2 separate regions of the Homo sapiens genome follow, and region 1 is linked to region 2. A link means that fine-mapping ties the variant in region 2 to the expression of a gene that starts in the linked region. Tissue or cell type: whole blood. Region 2 holds a variant in brackets; the other region holds the start of a gene. All regions are shown on one strand. Distances are from middle to middle. Region 1 holds the start of PLEKHA5 (pleckstrin homology domain containing A5). Region 2 overlaps LOC107984527 (a long non-coding RNA gene).

The links.
Region 1: it holds the start of PLEKHA5, and the variant in region 2 is fine-mapped to the expression of PLEKHA5 in whole blood (TOPMed, PIP above 0.99).

Annotation. Positions count from the first base shown.
Region 1 is chr12:19,125,380-19,134,066 of GRCh38, reverse strand. It overlaps PLEKHA5 (pleckstrin homology domain containing A5), which reads right to left and starts at 4,334. Exons shown (of 32, transcript NM_001256470.2): 1 at 4,179-4,334; 2 at 3,937-4,016; 3 at 1,617-1,674. The coding sequence starts at 4,267.
Region 2 is chr12:19,059,064-19,067,750 of GRCh38, reverse strand. All of the region lies in intron 1 of LOC107984527 (a long non-coding RNA gene), which reads right to left. Among named protein-coding and RNA genes, the nearest start is that of PLEKHA5, 66 kb to the left of the region's middle. The variant C/T (reference allele first, on the strand shown) is at 3,494.

The sequences.
Region 1 (8,687 bases), 66 kb before region 2:
TTAAAATGTTATTGAAAATTGAAATGTTACCTCTGTTTTTATAAGATGAGCTAGGCTTAATGTACAGTAGTCAAAATTACATTGAATAAATGACCTGAAATGAAAAAACTGTTTTTCTTCACATATACCATACTACTAGCTTGACAAGAAAAGAAGTATCCCTTTTCGTGGCAATATCAACTCACTTTAATTTAGGATGGAAATAACCAATAGAAAAACATTTGATGACTGCATTTCACTCAAGTATTTTTTTAGGCCATCTAATAATGTATAGTATAATCTCCAAAGAAAAGATTTCACCCAAAAATATTCACAGAAAGACCATACCATGAAACTATTCCATTCCTGTATCTTCTGCTTTCTCTATTTCTACATCCAAAAGCAAGCATTCCTAATACTTATAAAAAAGCCCTTGACGTTTTATCTAAGTATCTTTCTAAAAGATTAAAGAACCATACAGGTAATTATAATTTACTGGAAGTATAACATGATCTTAAAAATGTCACAGTAAAAATAACTTTCTAGGCTCAATGAAATAAAGGTAACTTTAGCTAGGTATCTGTTATTGTTTATAAACTACTGAAGTCTTAACCCAGTTTGGCATTTCAGCATTCTCTTTCATGTCTCAGTTTATTAAAATTAAAGAACAAATAAGGTTAAACAATAAAAACAAACTCTTAGGTAAATAGTTTCTAATATAAAAATAAAAAGACAAAACCACCCATATTTTTCGTTGGGGGATTAAAATTTTTCCTACATGATGTTGACCTCCAGCTTTGTATTTGTCTCCAAGTAGTACTAAGTTATTAAGTTTGAACATAAATTAGTTTAATATTCTAAAGAACTGGTTTTAAGATTGGGACTGACTGGTCATCTTTTCTCTCAAGCTCTACTAAAAGCCTTTTTTAAACAAACATATCAATAAAACATCTTGACTTAGACATATTTAAATAAACTGAGGCAAAAATACAAACAATGCTCCAATATATGCTCATGAAATATTCAGTAACTATTTCTATTTTTACTCCCTGACCGTCATTGTTTATCAAATTGTGCCTAGCTTTACATCACTTTTGCTACCTATAAACAGCCCTGGTCAAAATATACATGAACAAGGTTCACTAAAAAAAAAAAAAAAAAAAAGATGTTCACGTAACTCAGATTTTTTTTTGTTTGTTATCTCTCAGCACAGATAATCAAAGATCAAAACTTTAAGTACCACATAGCTAATGACCAATAATCCTCTATTACCCAGGAATATACACAGAAGCACCAAAAAAAAAAAAAAAAAAAGGTAATTGTGGTCATATTCTGATGAAGCTGGACGATTCCAAAAGAAAAAAACGAAGATACAAAATTATTTTTAAAAGTGGCCATAAATGATCTAATTTCCAAATCAATGAATCGATGAATATTCCAGGCAAATAACATTAGAAAAGTAAGAGTGCCATTTTCTTCTCTCAAAATTCTGACACTATACAAAATAAAGAATACAGTCACCATTATATGATAAACTTCAGAAAATCATGATCAAGACTGGACATACAACTATTCAGCTGAGGAGTAATCACAGCATTCTAATTACGAAGGAAAAAAATGAAAGTCAAAAAACTCACTTTATATAGTATCTTGCACCTTCAAAAGTATATGCTTCTTCCCAGCCAGTAGGCAAATCTAAAACAATACATATATTACAATTAGTATTACTTCAATGATAGCAAAATAAGTCTCAATCCATTTTAATTATCCATTTTCATTTATTAGCTGTTTTAATTAAGTAGATTACTAACAAAAAAAGTGTTGAGCTGGCAATACAACAGATATCATTTTTTGAAAAACAGCAATTCAAATTTAGAGCCACCAGAAAAGTAACCATAATATTAGAGATTATCTGACCTGAGCACACACTGTAATATATTAGGGTGGAGAGGAACTATGTTCTGGCACCCAAGAAAGCAAAGGGAAGCCTTCTCATCCCAGGTGGAACACTCATGAATGACTAGCAAAAAAAAAAGCTGGGTATAACAGGCAACGCCTGCCTCTTCTTGGGTATATTGTGTCTATTTAAGACCGTATTTTTCAGCTACACAAATGAATCCATCTAGGAAGTGTCACCAAAAAGAAGGCAGAACTTCCTAACTACTTAATTAATGGAAAAGAAATGACACCGAATACTTCCGTGTGTGTTTCTAAAAATTTGACTAAGAGACGTGAAGTTTCAAGTAGTAAAGTTGGGGATGATTCAGGTGAACAATGGTCATTATGTGCTACATATTATTATTAATGACAAGTTGTTTGGATTTCATCAAAATGCCTCTTGGAAGTAAAAACAACCGATGTGTGTACAAAACCAGAGTCCAAGCAAAGTAAAACCAAACCAGAAAAAAAAAAAAGTGAAATCACATAAAAGAATAAAATTTTTCTGTGGCGTGAATGTTACCAAATCTGTGGGGTTAACTAGGACACTTATTTATATCACTCATAATTCCATAGGATAATTAGTCTAAATAATTTAAATGTCATATCGTCTTTCATGAAATAAATCTATCATTATCCATAAAAGCAAAGAGGCCATCAAAGTTGGAATATGCGTGTAAAACACCAGAAAGGTATATTGAAGCAAAAGCCTGCACCGGGGAATTGAGAAACATGATAGTGTATTAGTCAGAAATGCCTTAAAAATGTAAGCTCATCATGCTTGCTACACCAGCCTTTCCTTTCTTCCTCCACCTTTTTGCAAATTTGGAGACATTAGTCACTTCAGTGAACTCCAGCATTTCACAGAGAGGCAGGTTTGTTCAATATCCTGGCAACTTTAACAGATTCACGGAATGTCAGAGTCCGAGAGAATGTACCCCAGAGGCCAGCTCTGAGGACTGCTGAAACTGGCCTCGCCTTCGACCCAAACTGCTCTCAAGCCTTTCCAATCACCAGGACTAGAGGCAGGCCAGTAAGAGAACACATGTTACATTTCAAAGACAAACAAGTCACGAATGTAAACAAAGAATGATAAAAGAAACCCAGACCAGTACAGAAACTACGAGGAGCCTTTTCCAGCTCCACTCACACTTAGCATTCAAACAAGCTCCCAAAGCCACCCGAGAGAGCCGCTTCCCCACGGACTCCCTCCAAACAGGGCCCGGGTGCCCCCATACGGGACACCCCCTCGCACGCCCACCGCCTCCTGGCAGTCTGTGCAACCTCCGTGCGGCTGGCGGGGACTTTAGATCCGGATCGCCAGCAACTGAGGCTGCGAACGCCTCCTCCGGCTCCGGCTGCTCCTCCCGTGGCAGGAGGGAACGCGCCAAGCGTTTCCCGAGCCGTTCCCTGTCACAGAGAGGATCGCAGCACCCCCGAACTCCTCTCCTCCTCCTCCTCCTCCTTCATCAGCCACCTACCCACAAGTCCCACCTAGGAGGAGGAAGCTGCACGGCAGGAGGCAGCGCTCCTGGGAGGAGGGGGAGGATGTGGTTACGTTATCCCGGCGGGCGATCGGGGTCCGGGGCTGCAGGGAGGGGAGTGGGTAAGGACTGCCTGAAGATTGCTGGGGGGCAAGACGGCAGCTGGGGGTCACCGGGGAGTGAGTAGCGGCCGCGGAGGAAAAACTCAGGACTCCAGGTTTCAGGGAGGGGAGCGTCGCCACTCTAGGGTCGCGAGGGTCGTCTAGGCTGGGATGGGGGGAGAAGGCGCAGGAAGAGGGCGCCGTCTCCAAGTGCTGATGAAAGGCTGAGGAGAAAGAGGCGCCCCGAGACTGGAGAGAACTCCCGGCGGCGGAGTCCCCGTGGCCCCTCTACCTGCGGCCGCTCCCGCCCGGCCTCCGCCCCGCCTCGCCGCCTCCCGGGGCCCGCGGCGCGGGGCAGGTTGCGGGGAGCCGGGCGGCCCGGGCTCTGCCGCCTCCTCCAGGCGGAGCCCAACTCCGTTTGGGCCCGGCGTTACCTGTGCTCTGCCGCCGGTGTCCGGTGACCACCGCCTCGCCGGTGACGGGGTGCAGCCAGGTGGTGCTCTTGGCCTCCTCGCTGCAGGGGTGAGAGAAGGGGCAGACACGGAGCGTGAGAGGGGACGCGGGGGCGAGCCGAGGGGCTGCAGGAGCACAGACCCGGGCTCTCCCCCGTGTCGCCAGCCGCCCGCCTCCTGCCCTCCCGCCCCCGCGGGCCCCCGTGCCGTCCCCGGCTCTTTACTTGATGAAGAAGACTCGGCCGCCCCTGGTGATCCCGTAAGTCCAGGACCGGGGCAGGGAGATCCACTCCAGGTTCAGATCCGCCGCCATGTCTGATCCCTAGCCGCCGCCGCCGCCTTCTCCTGCTGCCGCCGCGGCTGCCGAGGGAGGAGGGAACGAGCGAGCGAAGGGAGCGCGGAGCGAGCGCGCCTCCCCGGCCCGGCGCGCCCCCGCGCGCGCCCTACCCCCTCGGGCGGTGCCCGCCCCGCCGCCCCGGCAGGGTCCGGCCCCCGTCGCCGCCCCTCCGCATCCCGGCGGCCGCCGGCCGGCCGCCCCGCCGCGCGCTCGGGGGATGGGCAAGCGGCGCCGCGCCCCAGACCCCTCCCTCGGGCCCCTGCGGCGCGCCCGCCCCCTCCGCCGCGCGAAGGTTCCGGGATCGATTAAAAAAAAAAAAAAAAAAAAAAAAAAACGCGTCCTGCCCCCAGGGCTTTGCCCGAAGGCTTCCCATCCCAGGGCGCGATCAAAGGGAGCCTAATAATGCCCAAGCCCCTGATTTCTCTCTTTCAAACAACAAAAACACAGCGTCTGAGCTTTGTTTTATAAGAGCTGTTGGAGAGCCAACAGATTTTTCCAATATATTTATCGTTTTAAAATGGAAAGCTGTTTTTATTAAAGCACACGAAAGGCCTTTCCTGTTTGTTTGTTGTGTGCCAGATATCAAAGGTTGGACGTGATACGTGGCCCCATGAAATATGAGTGGATTTAGACTTGACAAAACAAGTTTTTTCTCTTCCTAGGCCCCTTAGGTCATATCTTATAAAATAAAAACTCGTCTTTTTCTGGTACTTGTTTTTAAAGATTCACTTAACATCAGTGTGGATTTTTACTTGCCCTGTCTCCAATAGATTACAATAATAGCTTATTTTATGGAGTCCTTGTGACGGTGTACATTTTTAAATCTTCACAACAACTATATATATATGTGTGTATATATATATATGTGTGTGTGTGTGTGTATATATACACACACACACACAATCTATAAAAAATCCCCATTTTACAGATAGGAAAAATGAAGTTTAAAAACACAGTAGTTTGCCCAGTCATAGTAATAACTGCCAAAGCCTGGATTCAAACTGGCTGTAGGATTTCAAAAGTATATTTGTATAACCTCCTTGCTGTACAAGCCCACTTTGTTTTACTGCGATTCACTTTATTGCTGTTTGCAGATCTTTCACATCTTACAAATTGAAGGTTTGTGGCAACTCTGCATTAAGCAAGTCCTAGCACCGTTTTTCAACAGCATTTGCTCACTACATGTCTCTGTGGCACATTTTGGTAATTCTTGCAATCTTTCAAACTTTTTCATTATTGTACCTGTTATAGTGATCTGTAATCAGTGATCTTTGATGTTACTGTTGAAATTGTTTTGAGGGCACCATGAACTGAGCCCATGTAAGACAGGGACTTAATAAATGTGTGTGTTCTGACTGCTCCACCAACCAGCTGTTCCTCTGTCTCTCTGCTTCATCTTGGGCCTCCATATTCCCTGAAATGAAACACTAATAATTGTCTAATAATAATGGCCTAATATTGAAATTAGGCCAACCAGTAACCCTACAATGCCCTTTAAGTGACCAAGTGAAAGGAAGAGTTGCATGTCCCTTACTTTAAATGAAAAGCTAGAAACGATTAAGCTCAGATGTATCAACAGCCAAGAGAGGCCAAAAGCTCGGCCTTGTGTCAAATAATTAGACAAGTTGGGAATGCAAAGGAAATGTTCTTGAAGGAAATTGAAAATGCTACTCTGGTGAAAACATGAATTATAAGAAAACAAAACAGCCTCATTGCAGATAGGGAGAAAATTTTAGTGGTCTGGGGAGAAGATCAACCTAGCTACAACATTCCCTTTAGCCAAAGCCTAATCCAGAGCAAGGCTCTAACTCTCTTCAATCTTATGAAGGTTGAGAGAGCTGAGGAAGCTGCAGAAGAAAAGGTTGAAGCTATCAGGGATTTAAGGAAAAACACCATCTCCGTAACATAATAGTGCAAGATGAAGCAGCAAATGATGTAGAAGCTGCAGCAAGTTATCCAGAAAATCTAGTCAAGATCATTGAAGGTGGATACACTAAACATATTTTCAATGTAGACAAAACAGCCTACTATTGAAAGAAGATGCCATCTAGGACTTTCACTGCTAGAGAGGAAAAGTCAATGCCTGGCTTCAAAGCTTCAAAGGGCAGGCTGACTTTTTTGTTAGGAGATAATGCAGCTGGTGATTTTAGGTTGAAGCCAATTCTCATTGACCATTCCAAAAATTCTAAGACCCTTAAAAATTATGCTAAATATACTCTTCCTGTGCTCTATAAATGGAACAACAAAGCCTAGATGACAGCACATCTGTCATGGCTGACTGAACATTTTAAGTCTGCTGTTGAGACCTACTGCTCAAAAAAAAAAAAAAAAAAAGAAAAGAAAAAGTGATTCCTTTCAAAATATTTCTGTTCATTGACAGTGTACCTGTTTACCCAAGAGTTCTCCTGGAGACATACAAGAGATTAGTGTTGTTTTCATGTTGGCTAACCCAACATGCATTCCACAGTTCATGGATCAAGGAGTCATTGTGACTTTCAAGTCTTATTATGTAGAAAGTACATTTCATAAGGCTATAGCTGCCAGAGATAGGGGGTCCTTGGATGGATCTGGAAAAAGTAAATTGAAAAAATTCATAATTCTAGATGCCATCAAGGACATTTGTGACTTAAGGAAGGAAGCCAAAAGATCAACATTATCAAGAGTTTGGAAGAAGTTGATTCCAACCCTCATGGATGAGTTTGAGGGGTTCAAGACTTCAGTGGAGGCAGTAACTAGAAATATGGAAATAGCAAGAGAACTAGAATTAGAGATAGAGCCTGAAGATGGGGCTGAAATGCCACAATCTCATGGTAAAATTTGAAGGGATGAGGAGTTGCTTCTTATGGATGAGCAAAGAAAGTGATTTCTTGAGAGGGAATCTATTCCTGGTGAAGATACTGTAAATATTGTTGAAATGACAACAAATAGTTTAGAATATAATATAAACTTAGTTGATAAAGTAGTGGCAGGGTTTGAAAGGATAGATTCCAATTTTGAAAGAAATTATACTGTGTGTAAAATGCTGTCAAACAGTATCACATGCTACAGAGAAATCCTTCATGGAAGGAAGGGTCAATCGATGCAGCAAACTTCTCTATTGTCTTTAAGAAACTGCAACAACTGCTCTTACCTGCATCAACACTAGCCTGACTGGTCAGCAGCCTTCAACAACATTGAGGCAAGATCCACCAGCGAAAAGATTAAGACTTGCTGGAGACTCAGATGATCCATTAGCATTTTTTAACCATTAAAGTTTTTTTTTTGTTGTTGTTGTTGTTTTTGAGATGGAGTCTCACTTGGTTGCCCAGGCTGGAGTGCAGTGGCACAATTTCAGCTCACTGCAACCTCCATCTCCCAGGCTCAAGCAATTTTCCTGTCTCAGCCTGCCTAGTAGCTGGGACTACAGGTGCGCATCACCATGCCCAGCTAATTTTTGTATTTTTATTAGAGACAGGGTTTCACCATGTTGGCCAGACTGATCTGGAACTCCTGACCTCAGGTGATCCACCTGCCTTGGCCTCTCAAAGTGCTAGGATTACAGGCGTGAGCCACCGCGCCTGGCTAAAGTATTTTTTAAATTAAGGCATGTACGTTTTTTAGCCATAATGCTATTGCACACTTAATGGATTACAGTATAATAAATATAACTAATATATGCACTAGGAACCAAAAAAATGGTGTGACTCACTTTATTGCTATGTTCACTTTATTGTGCTGGTCTAGAAATGAACCAGCAGTGTCTCCTAGGTATGCCTGTAGTTAAAAAATAAGTCTTGTTGGCTGGGCGCGGTGGCTCACGCCTGTAATCCCAGCACTTTGGGAGGCCGAGGCGGGCGGATCACGAGGTCAGGAGATTGAGACCATACTGGCTAACATGGTGAAACCCCGTCTCCACTAAAAATACAAAAAATTCTCCGGGCATGGTGGCGGGCGCCTGTAGCCCCAGCTACTCCGGAAGCTGAAGCAGGAGAATGGCATGAACCCGGGAGGCGGAGCTTGCAGTGAGAGGAGATCGCACCACTGCACTCCAGCCTGGGCGACAGAGCTAGACTCCGTCTCAAAAAAAAAAAAAAAGAAAAAAGAAAAGAGAGTCTTGTCTCCCTTCCTCCTGCTTTTGTTCGTTGAACAAGGGCAGATTTCACTGCGACTGGGATCTTCTCCCTTAATGCCATCTAAGAGTAAACTGCCTCTTCTCATTGTCTCTGGTCTTTTACCACACTTGGAATCGCTTATGCATCTTTGCAGCAAGATGACTCATTCCAACAGGATGCACAGTACAGTAATAATAGTACTACTTAGTATTCTTATAGCACCTAATTTTGTGACCAGTTTTGGGTGTTTCTGGAGCATGATCTCATTCATCTTCTCAGTAACTTAAAATGGTAAATAATGTTTT
Region 2 (8,687 bases):
AAAGTCCAATACAACTGTATATTATATTCCCTCCTTCCTTTATTCATTCATAATTAATATTTATTGAAACCTATTTTGTGTCACTGTGCTAGGTTTCATTTATAGTCTAATGGAAGGCATTAATCAAATAACATATTCCTTATGTATAGACCATGACCTATCTCACATTATACTGCTACTGTTCATCTTGCTTACTTCCCCAAGCACTGAAAACAAATGGAAAAGCTGTGTTTTATCGTGTGCCTACCCTTCTGACACCTAGTAATGTGCCTTGCATTGTTAGTTAAATGTTCAGCAGCAATATTCGATGAATATTTCATTTATTGCCTTACTCTTCACCCCGGGGGAAGCAATTCAGAGGACATATGTTACCATTAACTGCTGTAGAAAAATTCATTTGAAATTGAAACACGCATTTAAAAATATATACATGTGTCTTCATAACTGGAGTGTTGAGGATGGAGAAGAACCTATAAGATGAAAATCCAGCGTGTTTGCCTTATTAGAAATGCAAATGTCTACTAAAATATGATTATGAGAATATGAGGTGTCCAGTGTCCAGACGTGCAAAAATCACACAGATAAAAGCAAATCTCTCTCTAATCTTTCTTTGCTTTGTGTAATTAAAAGACAGAAAGCAAACTACGCTTTCTAAATAAATGATATTCAGTCAGTTTTAGAAATGTTTGCATCCTGCTACAATCACCGCTATAATAGGTTTTCTAGGCTCTGCAGCCTTTTCCTTGTTTCCTGCTTATTCAGGCTTCAGATCTGTGGAGTGGATCATAATTAGGAATCTACTGGTTCTTTCCCCAACTCTGATTCAATTAGCCATATGTTACAGGCAGCAAACACAGTGGCTGTCAAACTTTAGCAATTACCAAGCGGGGGGGGGAGGGGAGAAAGGTTTGTGGGGTCAAAACTATGAACTTATAAAAAGCTCTTGAAGTAAAGGCAAATCTTAATAGTGGAGCATTAATCAGAATTTTGTCTGGCCATTCATTAATCATCTCACACGGACCAGCTCTGGAAAGAGCAGCCTTTCATACACGTGGGACAGAAGTGTTGAGCTCTCAGAGCAAAGGTATCAGAAAAGGCAATGAGTAAATATGCAATTCTGTTTACATTCTTCATTCCAACAGTGAAGAAAAATCAATAGGCTTACAGAATATGGCAATTGTCCTTTGAAATGAAGGCTTTCTGAAAGGTAGTTTTTCTAGCTCATAAGGGCTGATTCCAAATAAATGATTTACTCTTTGTGGAGTGCTACATGCTTAATGAGGGCTGTTCTGGGTAAGACTGGAAGTGGAAAATCCTTGGAGGGTCACTGTTAAATTCATTTTATCGAAAAGGCAGAACATTCAAATTTAAACATTTGACATTCAAAGCTGTGTTAGTTCAGAACTTCTCTGCTACATGCTGATTTGTTAGAGAAAGGGGGTTGGAAGTCCTGGGGTAGATAACATTTAAAAAAATAGTTGAAAGAAAATGAGCATTGAAGCATGTCATTCTTGAGGAAAAACTCACATAATTAGGTAGGCTTTGTGAAGAAATCTACTGCTTTAAAAAGAAAAAACCTATTAATTTTTTGGCTAACCTACCCATTCATGCTCTTCTCCATAGAAGGAGGAACTGAGTTACAATACAGCCACACTCCATTTAAAATAACATTTATTCAATAGCAGGTCTGCCTCGTAGGCAGGCTTACCTCCTCATAGAAAAGGCCTATTATAAATCCCAGTAATTTTCCCATGAGTTCTACAAAGAGTGTTTCTTTGTGGTGGGTTTGAGTACTTTATCCACTATAATTTAAATGTCTCAAATGATGTCACTTCAAACTGTTTCCCTCAGGAGGTTGCTCTAGTCTGAAAAAATCTTCATTAAGATATTTCTCTAGTATTTAACCTGGAATTTATTTATCTGTCATCCGAAATAGGTCGTTTCCCCACCAGCTTTAACCACTGAACTTTGTTCAAGAAGCGAGTGTGCTCTAGCATAAGAAAGGTTGTTATCTTTTCTTCATAAAATAAGTGACTTTTAGCTCAACTGTATTGAGTGCATTAAAATTCCCATTTGATTTATTTTGCTCTAGGTATGTATCCATGTCTGTGGACACTAGTTGAGATTTTGGTCCAGGAAAAGCTGAGGTTTGGTTGGGGGAGGGTGAAGGTGAGTGGAGAGGATTTTAAAGTGTAAACTTTTACTCTCTCATATCAAATAGAAATTTTAAAAAAATATCGAGAGGGTAAACATTCACCTAGTGGAAAAGAAACTGAAGAAATCAATGAAGCCACGGAATATAGGTGTGACCTTTAGACTTTTTTCTTTTTGAGGTTAACAAAGTGGAAAAGCATCTTGCTAAGAAGTCAGGGTACAAATTTCTGACCCCTTTAAGAACATCTACTGTAACACTTTAGCTTTAAGTACTTCTACTTATTTATTTATTTAATGACTGCATCTTACCCTGTCACCCAGACTGGAGTGCAGTGGCACTATCAAAGCTTACTGCAGCAAACTCCTGGGCTCAAGTGATCCTCCTGCCTCAGCCTCTCCAGTAGCTCAGACTACAGGCCTGTAGTGGCCTAATAATTTATCATCACTCCTGGCTAATTAAAAAAAAACCCCTTTTTTTTTTCTTTTTGTAGAGACAGGGCCTCTCTAAGTTGCCCAGGATGGTCTTGAACTCCTGGGCTAAATGCTTCTTCCTCCTCAGCCTCCCAAGTAGCTAAGACTTCTGCATTGATTTTAATAGCTTAATTGGAATGACAAGGGAAGTGAGGGTTGCCAGAGCCAACACGTTAAATGCCTGTCTTGGGTGGCAGGCAGCTCCATGGTGAAGAGAGAACTCACTGGGCTCCATTGCCCCTTCCTGTGATGGGCTACCACACAGGATGAGGATCTTTGCTGCTAAGTCTCTCATCTGTTTCAAGTGTGTGTGCATATTGACAGTTCTCCTAAGGAAAGCAGAGCACTCCTATGGAGGTCCTAGAGGGTACATACAGCAGCTGATGATAACGTTTTTTTTTTCTACTAGGAGAGTTTTAATTAAAACTACATGTGGTTTGAGATGTTTGCTGTTCTTTCTCTTCTGAAAATCCTTACAATTCATTTTGCATAAAAAGAAAAATTCTAAAGTCTTTCATTTAAATAGTGAGATGATAGCTTCAGTAAGAATTGCTGTGTTGGGCTTTCATATATGGTTACTGAAAGCACAATGCAAAGGCCAGGACTGAATTTAACAGGCCATTTGCCGCAAGTAGCAGTATCACTGGATACCACCAACAGGTTCATGTTGAAGGTTTTTAAAAAAGCTTTTAAATTTTGCAATTAAAACATATACAGGCCAAGTGCAGTGGCTCATGCCTATAATCCCAGCACTTTTTGGGAGGCCGAGGTGGGTGGATCATTTGAGGTCAGGAGTTTGAGACCAGCCTGGCCAACACGGTGAAACCCCGCCTCTACTAAAAATACAAAAATTAGCCGGGCGTGGTGG[C/T]AGGTGCCTGTAATCCTAGCTACTTGGAAGGCTGAGGCAGGAGAATCACTTGAACCCGGGAGGCAGAGGTTGCAGTGAGCTGAGATCATGCCACTGCACTCCAGCATGGGCGACAGAGTGAGACTCCGTCTGAAAAAAAAAAAAAAACAAAACCAAAAAACCAAAAACGTATGGCCTAATAATTTATCATAAGGCATGTAACCACCACCCAGATCAAGAAATAAAATCTTCATTGCAGCGCTATTCACAATAGGAAAGACATGGACTCAACCTAAATGCCCATCAACGACAGATTGGATAAAGAAAAATGTGGTACATATACACCATGGAATACTATGCAGCCATAAAAAGAACAAGATCCACTTTGGGAGGCTGAGGCAGGCAAATCACGAGGTCAAGAGAGCGAGACCATCCTGGCCAACATAGTGAAACCCCGTCTCTACTAGAAATACAAAAATTAGCTGGGCATAGTGGTGCATGCCTGTAGTCCCAGCTACTTGGGAGGCTGAGGCAGGAGAATTGCCTGAACCTGGAAGTAAGTGGAGGTTGCAGTGGGCCGAGATCGCGCCACTGCACTCTAGCCTGGGTGACAGAGCAAGACTCCGTCTCAAAAAGGAAACAAAAAAAGAACAAGATCATGTGTTTTGTGAGAAGATGGGTGGAGCTGGAGGCTATTACCCTTAGCAAACTAACACAGAAACAGAGAACCAAATACCACATGTTCTCACTTATAAGTGGGAGCTAAATGATAAGAACTCATGAACACAAAGAAGAAAACAATAGACACTGAGGTCTACTTGAGGGAGGAGGGTGAGAGGAGGGAGAGGAGCAGAAAAGATCACTCTTGGGTACTAAGCTTAATACCTGGGTGATGAAATAATATGTACAACAAACCCTCACAACAGGTGTTTACCTATGTAACAAACCTTCACATGTACCCCCCAAATGTAAAATAAAAGTAAAACAAAATCCTGCCAGCACCCCAGAAATCCAACTTACGTTCCCTTCATCTTCCCTTGGCTGTTATTGTAATCATCTTCTGGCTTGCTTTATAGATTTATCTCTAGGCATGTGTTGCTAAACTCTATAGTTTAGTTTTGTCTGTTTTGAATTATATAGTGAGAAATTACACAATATAAATGCTTTCATGGCTGGTTTCTTTTGCTCGTCATATTTGTGAAATTTACTCAGGATTTTATTTTAACTGTAATTTTTATTTTTCAGTATTTTTTAATCTTCCATTATAGAATTACAGCTACAATTCATTTATCAATTTTACTGTTAATGGGCATTTGGGTATTTTTAGTTTGAGGCAAAAACAAATAATACCGCTAAGAACGTGCTTCTACATGGCGCTTGGTGCACATATGTACACATTTCTGTTATATCTGTTCCTAGGAGGGGAAGTGCTAGATCTACAGTGTGCTTGTATTCAATCCTTAGACACTGCCAGACTCTGCTAAGCAGATTGCATTAATTTTATATGCTAAACAATAGTGAATGCCTCAATGATTGGTATTTTCAGTCTTAAGTTTTGGCCACACTGATGGGTTTGTAGTGGTACTTTATCTACTTTTAGTTTACATTTTCCCTGAGTTTACATTAACCAATGAGTTCAGTACCTTTCACATGTTCATACATTCATTGACTATTTGGATATCATCTTTTGTGAGTTGGCTGTTCAAATCTCTTGCACATTTTTCCATTTGGTTGTTCACCTTTATTATTATTGGTTTGTAGAATTGTTTATGTATATTAAAAATATTGTCTCCTACTCATGGCTTACTTTTTACTCTCTTATTGATGTCTCAATAAACTTGATATAGTAACTTTAATTAGTCTTTCTTTTTATGATTTTGCTTTTGGTGCCCTGTTTATGAAGTCTTTTCCAATTCTATCTAGGTCATGAAGAAATTCTACTAACATCTTCTAGAAGCTTCAGAATTTTGTTTTTTCACACTTAAATTTGCAATCTCTCTGGCATTGTTTTCTCTGAATGGCATGTGATTAAGTTTAGAGTCCATTTTTTTTTTCACCTATGGGGATTTCCAATGTTGTCAGCAACATTTATTGTAAAGTTATGCTTTCCCTGCTATTCTGAAGTGCCATGTTAATTGTAATTCAGGATCTAGATATGAACAGGTCTATTTCTGGAATTTTGTTTTCATTTCATTGTTTTATTGTCTGTCCTTTAATCAATACCATATTGTGTTAATTATTTTTACATGTAGGGTGTATCAATGTCCTGTAGAGTAAGTCCTCGCATCATGTTCTTCTTCGAGAGTATCCTCACTATTCTGAGTCTATTGCATTTCCATATATTTCCATTTTGGTACCGGACTGGTCCAATTGCATTTTGATGCATTTTCATTTTAGGACCAGCTTTTCCAATTCCATGAAAACAACAACAAGACAAATACACAAACACATAAATATAAACACACACATAATATATGTAAACACACACATATAAAACAAATTTAAAAATGGGTTAAGATTTTAGCTGGGATTGTACTGACTCTATACAGCAGTTTGAAGAAAATTGACATTACATTATTGAGTCTTCAAACTCATGAACATGGTGTGTCTCTCCTTTTGTTTTAGTCTTTAAGGTCTTTCAATGTTTCATAGTTTTCTGTATAGAGGTCTTATATGTCTTTTGTTAGATTTAATATTTAATAATTTAACATTTTTGGTTTATAATAAATAGTATCATTTAAAAATTTTATTTTCTGTTTATTGTTGCCATAAAGTAATATATTTAGGAGCCTCTGGAGCTTCTAGAACATAACAGGAGAATATTCTTCCTGACCTGAAGTAGGAAAAGGAATGCATTTATTTACTTGTGTAGCAATTTTGATGAACTGTCTTGTTAATGCTAATTTTCTGTCATTCTTTTGACACTTCTATGAACACATGCACATATCATCTGGGTTTTATTTCTTATTTCTTTCTTTCCAGTCTTTCCCCCCATTTCCCATTCCTCATTTTCTTTCCCTTTTGTTTTTCTGTATTAGCTGGGCTCCCTTTCTGTACTGGTGGCTACCTTCTTCCAATGTTGAAAGGAAGTGGTAACGACAGACATACCCATCTTTTTCCAGATCTCAGTAGAAAGCTTACACCGTTTCACCGCTAAGAATAATGCTTGCTGTATCTTTCCTTTTCGTACTCTTTAACAAAATAAGAAGATTACCTTGTATTCCTAGTTTGATGAGAATTTTTATAATGAATAGATTTTGAATTTTATCACAGTATTTTCTTTATTTATTTAAATGATCATATGAATTTTCTCTTTTCCACTAATGTGATAAATTGAACTGACTGATTTTTAAATCTTTGACCAATCTTGCACTCTTGGAATGAACTCAGATTTTTATATTTTGCTAAATTTGATGTTAGAATTTTGTTTAGGATTTTTTCAATTTGTGCTCTGAGTGATACTGACTCAGACTTTTTCTTTCTTGAAGCATTTTTGTCATGGTTTGATATCAACATTAACATAATAACTTCAAAAATAAAGAGAAATAGTGCCTCATTTGCTGTTCTCTAGAAAAGTCTGTTTAAACGTTTGGTAGCATTTACCAGCAAACCATCTGGGCCTGTCATTTTCTCTGTGGGAAGGAATTAAATTGAGAATCCAGTATCTTTAACAGGCCATTTAGACTTTTTATTCTTGTCTTAGTTTTGGTAGCTTGTGCTTTGTCCATGTCATCTAAATTTTATTTTATTTATTTATTTTTGAGACAGAGTCTCACTCTGTTGCCCAGGCTGGAGTGCAGTGGCATGATCTCAGCTCATGGAAACCTCTGTCCCCTGGGTTCAAGCGATTCTTGTGCCTCAGCCTCCCAACTAACTGGGATTACAGGTGTGCACCACCATGCCCAGCTAATTTTTGTATTTTTAGTAGAGACGGGGTTTTGCCAGGTTGCCCAGGCTGGTTTCAAACTCCTGGCCTCAAGTGATCTGCCCGCTTTGGCCTTCCAAAGTGCTGGATTTCGGGCTTTAGCCACTGTGCCCAGCCATGTCATCTAAATTTTAAAATTTATTGACATGAAATTTTAAAAATAATATATTCTTTTTTCTTTTGTAGAGATGAGTCTCACTATGCTGCCCAGGCTGGTCTTGAACTCTTGTGTTGAAGTAATCCTCCTGCCTTGGCCTCCCAAAGTGCTGGGATTACAGGCATGAGCCACTGTGTCCGGCCTGTAATATCTTGTTATGATCATTTTAATGTCTGTATGATCTAAAGCAGGAGTGGGCAAACTATAGTTCTCAGGTCAACCTGGCCCATGGCCTGTTTTTGTTTGGGCCAGTGAGCTAAGAACGGTTTTTATATTTTGAAAGAGTTATTAAAAACAGAACAACAACAACCAAAACACAAGGATATGTGACAGAACCCAGTTTCTGCTCTTAGCTTTAATATTTCCTTAGTTTACATTTGTGGTTTAATTTCCTTTTCTTTTTTTAGCTTCTTGAGAACCCAGTTTTAATAAATACTATATTCTGTGTGTAGCAGAAAAGAACAAGTTTGCTATGCTGTTATTCAAATCTTCTACATCCTTACTGATTTTTTGTCTTTTTATTCTATTGGTTAGTAAGAGTTGTGTTAAAAATCTGCCTCTTTTATTGTGGATTCACAAATTTCTTTTTATAGTCCTGAAATGAACTACTCTTTTTGAGGTCATAGCATTAGACACATATAAATTTAGAGTTGTTACAACTTCCTGATGAATAAAATCTTTTATCATTATTAATTGGGATGGAAGGGAAGTACATTTTAAGCAGTAGCAACATTCTAACAAAGATAAAAGAAAATGTAAAACATATTTTGGAAGAGGAAATAATACGATTTAATTATATTGAGAGGTCTACTTTGGGGAATAGAAAAAAGGAGACTATGAAAATAGAGGGAGGGCTTTATTTTGGTTTGCTTCAAGCATCACAGTGAGAAGTTTGTATCTAAGCCAACCATACATTTTTGAATCCAGTTTTTTTTCACCTAAATTCAAGTTTGTCACAATCGTAAGCAATAACTTTGGCTTAAGGCTTTATACATCTTTACATATCTTTACCTAAGATAAGTGATCTTAACCATTTATTGTTAAACATCCAATTTTAGTAATTATTCTACCATCTTATTTCATTTTTCTCAAGAAAGGAAAGTAGATTTTTATAAACAAAAATAATGAATGAG